2 linked regions of the Homo sapiens genome follow. The protein of the gene in region 2 purifies or fractionates together with the protein of the main gene of each other region. This does not show direct contact. Each region holds a gene or a part of one and is shown on either strand. Other genes may lie near its edges. The genes, in order: FARP1 and VPS33B.

Region 1 (3,815 bases), on a different chromosome or scaffold from region 2:
AAAAAAAAAGAGAAAAAAGGAACTGCCCAAGGAAATTGTTTTGTTTTGTTTTTTGGTTAAAGATACAAATAAGATAGCATTGAAAGGGTTAGTTTTTTTTAAACAGTGAAGCTTATACTCATTTAATTTATTGAACACCTAAGAGCTTAATTCATTTGGAAAATTGTATATATTTATGAGGAGGATGCTTGTGATAAACATCAGAAAAAAACAACTCTTTTCATCCTGGACGGGATTAGAGAATACTAGAGAAAGGATAAAAGGCTGGTTTCTGCAGGCAGAATATGCTTAGGAAAAATGGCATTGTGATTTTCCCAGAGGATAAGAGAAATTCTGTGGATTTGTAAGTACTGTACTTGCCTGATTTTTTTTTTTGAGATGGAGTTTTGCTCTTGTTTCCCAGGCTGGAGTGCAATGGCGCAATCTCGGCTCACTGAAACCTCTGCCTCCCAGGTTCAAGCGATTCTCCTGCCTCAGCCTCCCCAGTAGCTGGGATTACAGGCATTTGCCGCCATGCCCAACTAATTTTCTGTTTTTAGTAGAGACGGGGTTTCTCCATGTTGGTCAGGCTGGTCTTGAACTCCTGACCTCAGGTGATTTGCCCGCTTCGGCCTCTCAAAGTGCTGGGATTACAGGCGTGAGTCACAGAGCCTGGCCTTGCCTGATGTTTTGATAGCATGGTGGACTGGACATTTTAAAGAAGCCCTTTGTAACTGGCCTTGCTTATTGCAGATAACTGCTTAGTGTTTTTGAGAAATGCACTTTCCTCACCAGCTGAAGGTGCTACAGATAAGAGGGGCAGGTATAGTCCTGTAATGCAGGTGCTAAAGTCTTTCTACTTTGGAAGGACAGGCATTCCCTGTATTGGTTACCGTTTGCCTGGGAAGGGAGGCTGTGGGGTTTTAGGCTCTCGTGGCAGTCTCTCTCCTGTTGTTTGGTGCTTTTGATTGAAAGGAGCCTCTCCAAGCCTGGCTATTGAATGGGAAGCAGCGGATCAACTTCTTTTCTTGTCTTTTAGTGTCAGAGTTTATTCTGTGGTGGTACTGGGTCACAGTCCTTTCTCTCTGTTTCACCCATGGCAACTTAGGTAGGCTGTTACCTCCTTAACCACTTCCACATGGCCAGGAAGATCAGAGCCAAACGGTTTTCATTCAAATTACTTGAAATACTGATTTCTCCAGTCCTGTTCTGCCAAATGCAGCCTTTGTTTTCAATCAAGAAGCCCCCAGAAAACGTGTATTTAAAACTGGCAAAACTTTTTATAGGATGCCCTTGCCCTGGTTTGAATTAGTTAAAAATGTTTGGCCAAGTGGATACTTTGAGCAAAAGTGGATAATGGATACATTACTAAAATATCATGCTCGAAGCTTTTGATACTAATCCGGCGAGACTGAAACTGAGGCATGCTCAGTGCTGCCTGCAAACTGTTAACTCAGATTTTAAGTTTTCTTAGTTTAATGTGGGATGGAAATTATGAACTTCAAGACTTGCAATTAATGTGGGAATTCATCATTTACACTGAATGAATTTCATATGTAAAACTGTCATATTTGTTCACACATTAAAAAAAAGAAGAGCCTCAGGCCACACTAGACTGCCTTTAACTCTCAATTATGATAATAACCTCTGACCACAAGAGTAACTTCACTTTATGTGCAGACTTTTGACGAAATGCTTTGCATAAATTTATTATCAATTAGAAGACTTAAAAATCCAGTATTATGATGACTTTCAGTTTTTGTTCTTGTTCATTCAGGATCTAGTATAGTATCTGAATATAGCAAACCCTTGGTAAATTATTGTGTTCTGTTTTCTTTTTGAAAAAAACTCGAGGCTGGAGTGCAGTGGTGATCATGGCTCATTGCAGCCTTGACCTCTTGGGCTCAAGCAATCCTTTCATCTCAGTCTCCCGAGTAGCTGTGACTACAGACACATGCCATCACGCCCAGCTAATTTTTTCTTTAAAAAAATTTTTCTTAGAGAGTCTCACCGCTATGTTGCCCAGTCTGGTAAATCCTTGTTGAATGAATAATAAATCCAGTTTTTACCATCCCTTCAAATTAGTCTTTAGGGTTTTTAAAGGAAACTTGTTATTAGAATTGATAGATTGCAGTTCTGGCAGTTTGATATTTGATTTTGTTTTCATTTCATTCTAATTTAGCAATTGAATCCTTAAAGCTAAGTCAGATTGTAAAAAGACAGAGGTTCCTTTTCAAAAAAAAAGACAATAAGGTGCGGTGGCTCACGCCTGTAACCCCAGCACTTAGGGAGGCCAAGGCGGGCGAATCATCTGAGGTCAGGAGTTCAAGACCAGCCTGACCAACATGGAGAAACCCCGTCTCTACTAAAAATACAAAATTAGCCAGGCGTGGTGGCGCGTGACTGTAATCCCAGCTACTCGGGAGGCTGAGGCAGGAGAATCGCTGGAACCCGGGAGGCGGAGGTTGTGGTGAGCTGAGATTACGCCATTGTACTCCAGCCTGGGCAACAAAAGTGAAACTCCGTTTCAAGAAAACACAAGACAATAAAAGCATGAAGAAGAAAATAAAACAAACTTGAAATCCTGCCACCTGTTACTGACTCCTACCTTAGCATTTTGGGATCTGTTCTTTTATATAGCCTTCTCATTTCTTAACCTGCGCCAAATTTGACATTCTAATTGTTTTATATGGTACTTGTCTGTAAATTTAATGTGCTCACCATTCCTTTTTGTACTTTGAAGCTTGCTTCTGGGATACATTTTCCTTCTTCCTGAGACACATCTTCTAGAAATTCTGTTAGCATCTGTTGGTGGTAACTTCAGTTTCTGCATGTCTTAGATACCTTTGTTCTTGAATGGTAAGTTTATCTGGGTGTGCAATTCTGTATTGTTCCTGTATTAATCAGCTGTGTTCTGGTCCCATTGCTGTTGCTGTCTAATTATTTGTAACTAGTCTGCCTTTTCTCTCTGGCTACTTTTAAGATGCTTTGGTGTTCTGCAGTCTGGCTATGACATGTCTAGGTATTTCTTCTCTCTTTTACTTTTTTTTTTTTGAGTCAGGTTCTCACTCCCATTGCCCAGGCTGGAGTGCGGTGGCATGATCTCGGCTCACTGCAGCCTCAACTTCCTGGGCTCAAGTGATCCTCTCACGTCGGCCTCCCAAGTAGCTGGAACTACAGGCAAGCACCACCACACTTGGCTCATTTTTTGTATTTTTACTAGAGATGGGGTTTTGCCATGTTGCCCAGGCTAGTCTTGAACTGCTGGGCTCAAGTGATCCTCCTGCCTCGGCCTCCCAAAGTGCTGGGATTACTGGCATGAACTGCCATGCCTGGCTCTCCTTTAGTTTTATTCCTCTCTCTCTTCTTCCCTCTTCTCCTCTCCCTCTCTTCTGTTCCTCTTCCCTGCTCCCTTGCTACTGTCTTTCCCATCCTCTTTATTAGTTTATTTTCTGTTGCTCAGCAGTATTTCCGTGGCTGGATATGCTATGACTTGCGTATCCACTCCCCTTTGGCCATTCAAGTTGTTTTCAGTGTTGGCTATCATGAATACAGCTGCTGTGAACATTTGTGAACAAATCTTTGTGTAGAGATAGGTTTTTATTTTTCCTCCTGGGTCTTTAAGTGTGTGCCTAACTTTATAATAAGCTATTTGTAAGAAAGCGTTGGCACCATTTTATGTTACCATCAGTGATGTATGAGACTTCTAGTTACTCCAATCTTGATCAACACTTGAAACAGTCTTTCCTTTTAGCCATTCCAGTGGCTATGTAGTGATATCTCACTGTGGTTTTGTTTTTCCTGATAACTAATGAAACATTTTCATGTACTTATTG
Region 2 (3,815 bases):
AAACGTGCTTGCTGGTCACCTCAGCCATCTCCCTCATTTTATGGTAGAGGAAACTCAGGTACAGAGTGGTAGAGTGATTTTTACAGGGAAGAACCAGACCAGGCCTGGAGCCACTACAAAGTCCAGGCCAAGAAGCACAGGAAGCCCCTGTAGCAAGCTCCAATGGGCTTTCACTAATAAAGATGGAAGTGCGTGTCCAGAACGACCAACGTATTACATCTGAGAGCAGAGGCTTTATTTACAATGACATTCAAACAGGATTTAGCAAAGGATGCCTCTTCCTGCTCGCATCTTAGCAGCATGGGTTGTACTTCATAAACAGAAAAGAGAAATATCCTGGGAGCAGGAAGTGAACTCTTTTCTCAGATAATGTTCTCTAAATCCCAACACGTTCCATGCTCCCGGCTCTTAGCAGGTAGTTGGTGGACACTTGGTTATAGCAGCTGGGTGCCAGATGCCTGCATCTCACTGAGGAATGTGTTCAGGGAAGATGTCAACACTGGCCGGGAAAAACATCAGGCTTTCACCTCACTCATGGCCTCCATAAGGCGAGCGCTGTTTGTGACTGCTGTCGTCAGGAAAATGAACCTGTAGCCTAAGGAGTCAAATGCAGCAGCAGAAGAGACAGCACAGATCTTAGGCCCCAACGGCAACCCATAGAGCCTCTCCAGTTCCACAGTCCCCACGGGATCACAGCACCAGTTTATAGACAGAGACGTGAGTGCCATGCTCTTGGGCACCACTGCTTTCTATGACTGGTATAACTGGGCTCCCTGCTGTGGCAGCCCAGAGTTAAGGCTATGGCAAGTTGTATTCTGAGGCCAGGAGAAAAATATTCCTGTGCAGGACACTTTGCGTGTTTTTTTTTTTTCTCTTGAGATGGAGTTTTGCTATTGTTGCCCAGGCTGGAGTGCAATGGTGCAATCTCAGCTCACTGCAACCTCCACCTCCCGGGTTCAAGCAATTCTCCTGCCTCAGCCTCCCGAGTAGTTAGCATTACAGGCACCGGCCACCATGCCTGGCTAATTTTTGTATTTTTCGTAGAGATGGGGTTTCACCATGTTGGTCAGGCTAGGCTCTAACTCCTGACCTCAGGTGATCTGCCCGCCTCCGCCTCCCAAAGTGCTGAGATTACAGGTATGAACCACCGTGCCCAGCTGACACTTTGTTACCCAGATACAATGCAGGCCAATTCTCACCTTTCTGCTCTCTCTTACCTTTCTCTCTGCCCAGGAACCGGAGGGCTGAGATCTCAGAGAATGTACAACCACCCAAGAACACCACCAAGATGAGGCGCAGGGACTCACTGGAAGCCTTGTCTTCCTTAGTCATATCTGTGAGGATCAGACCAGATTCAGCCCTTCCCTGACATGCTAGTCCTGAGTGGTGCATCCAGCCCACCTCTCACTGCCAGCCTACCCCACTGTTAATGCCACATACCTGTGAATGCAAAGTCACTGCAGTTGAGCAGCCGTACCACCTCATCAAGGCCCTGCCAGCTTCGCCGCTCTAGCACCTGGGAAGGTGTAAGCACTGTTTTTAAGGCTACAGACAGTATCAGGCTTAGGAAAGGAAGGGCACAGCAGCCAGACTGTCACATTTCTTGCTCATTACTCAAGTAGCAAAAAGTTGAGACAGGGCCAGGTGTGGTGGCTCACGCCTGTAATTCCAACACTTTAGGAGTTTGAGGCGGGGGGATCACCTGAGGTCAGGAGTTCGAGACCAGCCTGGTCAACATATAGTTGGCCCTGTCTATATGAAACCCCATCTCTACTAAAAATACAAAAATTAGCTGGGTGCAGTGGCACATGCCTGTAGTCCCAGCTACTTCGGAAGCTGAGGCAGGAGAATCACTTGAATCTGGGAGGTGGAGGTTGCAGTGAGCCAAGATCGTGCCACCGCACTCCAGCCTGGGTGACAGAGCAAGACTCCATCTCAAATAAAAAAAAAAAAACATTGAGACACGCCAGGGACCAAGAGAAAGCAGAGAGAATGAAATATGAATGGGAGCAAGAATTACATGCTCTCACCTGCTCAATGATTCGGCAGCTCAGGGGCACATAAGCACCACCGAAGACGTAAGCCATGTCTCGGGGCACTTTCAGATCATACTCGCCGTCCACACGTGGGATCTGTAAGACAAAGGGACTTCATTAGGCAAGTGACAGCTCAGCTCCCTAACCCTTTAAAGGGTCAGATAAAGTGGCATGGCCCAAGGAACAATTCTTATTTCAACTAAAGGGAGAACCAGCAATAGCCCTGAAAAGAGAATCCATAACGGAAGATGGCAGTTTTTGTTCAGTAACTGCCAGTTCTCTGGAATGAGTTCCCATGCGCCATTATTGAATAATGTAAAGGGGCTGGAGGGATGGCTTCTCCTTTCCCTACCCTTAAGTGACACAGGATATGGTTGTCACTGAAGCAGCACTTAGAATATTCTCTGGCATTGGCAGGTGCTTGTTACATGTTGATTAAATGAATGAATCTACCATGCTATAAGACTACCAAACAAAAGAATCTTTATACACATGAAATGACAAAAAGGTTTTTGTGGATTCAAAGTACTCCACAATGGGCTGGGCGCAGTGGCTCATGCCTGTAATCCCAGCACTTTGGGAGGCCGAGGTGGGCGGATCACCTGAGGTCAGAAGTTCAAGACCAGCCTGGCCAACATGGGGAAACCTTGTCTCTACTAAAAATACAAAAATTAGCTGGGCGTGGTGGCACATGCCTGTAATCCCTTGGGAGGCTGAGGCAGGAGAATCACTTGAACCTGGGAGGCAGAGGTTGCAGTGAGCTGAGATTGTGCCACTGCACTCCAGCCTGGGCAACAGAGCAAGATTCCATCTCAAAAAAAAAAAAAAAAAAGAAAAGTACTCCACAATGGAATGAACCCACTGTCTCCCCTAACCATCCCTGTTCCACATACCAAATTCAGCTTTTTGCTGATGGCACGAAAATTGCTCCTCTTGGCCAGAGAACTGAAGGCATCAGTAATCTTTCCTGGGGAAGAAATCTGTGTCAGGTTTCACCTAAGGTCTATGGATTCATGACACTGCCACAGATAACACCATTCAGGACACGACAGCACCAATCACATCCAAAAACTCTCGGAAGCTGTTCAACTATAATTCCCTGGAACTAATCAAGATATACTCCCCACCCTTCTCCCCACCCACAGTCTTCCCCCTCCTACGGGGTACCAGCTCTCTACTAAATGCAATCCACAGGGTAACCCGAGTTTATTGGTATGTGCTTTGGGAGTTAAACCGACCTAACTTACTAACTAAGGGACCTTGGACAAATCACTTAATTCTCTAAGCCTCAGTTTCATCATAAAATGAGGATGAGAAAATTTATCTCACAGTCTTTGTGAGATTAAATGAGAAACTAAAGGGCTCAGCACATGGTAAGTGTTTACTATGTGGAAACTGCTCTTACTAGCAGAAGTAGTAGTAATAATAGTAATGACATTAATAGGAAGGAATCAGTCCACCTTCTCCAATTCATTCTGTCCCTCCCAGCATGCTGCGTGTTGAGAGAAGTCAGGACAACAGCTGGAGCAGGGGTCACTTGTGCTCCCTGCTTACCTGCAGCCTTGTCGGTCACCAGCTTGCTCACTTTACTCTCCACGGCTGTGAGGGTGTCCCCGGGGGCCTGCTCCGTTAGGAGCCCAGCTCTTCGCAGATTGGAGAAGGTTAGCAGGTGCTCAGGGCCATAGCTCTGAAGAAGATGCAATTAGACTATTTACTGAGTGTCCAAAGAGCATCTAGTACTGTCAGGTACTACAGAGTTGAGCAGAAGGACTATGAAGC

What was found.
Region 1: the proteins of VPS33B (region 2) and FARP1 fractionate together in Homo sapiens (co-fractionation; one large-scale study listed by BioGRID). This does not show direct contact.

The regions. Positions count from the first base shown.
Region 1 is NC_000013.11:98,145,871-98,149,685, forward strand, and holds part of FARP1 (FERM, ARHGEF and pleckstrin domain-containing protein 1), read left to right. Parts: intron 1-3,815. UniProt on the Homo sapiens protein: Functions as a guanine nucleotide exchange factor for RAC1. May play a role in semaphorin signaling.
Region 2 is NC_000015.10:90,998,460-91,002,274, forward strand, and holds the end of VPS33B (vacuolar protein sorting-associated protein 33B), read right to left. Parts: intron 3,724-3,815; coding exon 3,591-3,723; intron 3,004-3,590; coding exon 2,930-3,003; intron 2,133-2,929; coding exon 2,031-2,132; intron 1,517-2,030; coding exon 1,441-1,516; intron 1,335-1,440; coding exon 1,218-1,334; intron 596-1,217; coding exon 516-595; 3' UTR 214-515; downstream 1-213. UniProt on the Homo sapiens protein: May play a role in vesicle-mediated protein trafficking to lysosomal compartments and in membrane docking/fusion reactions of late endosomes/lysosomes.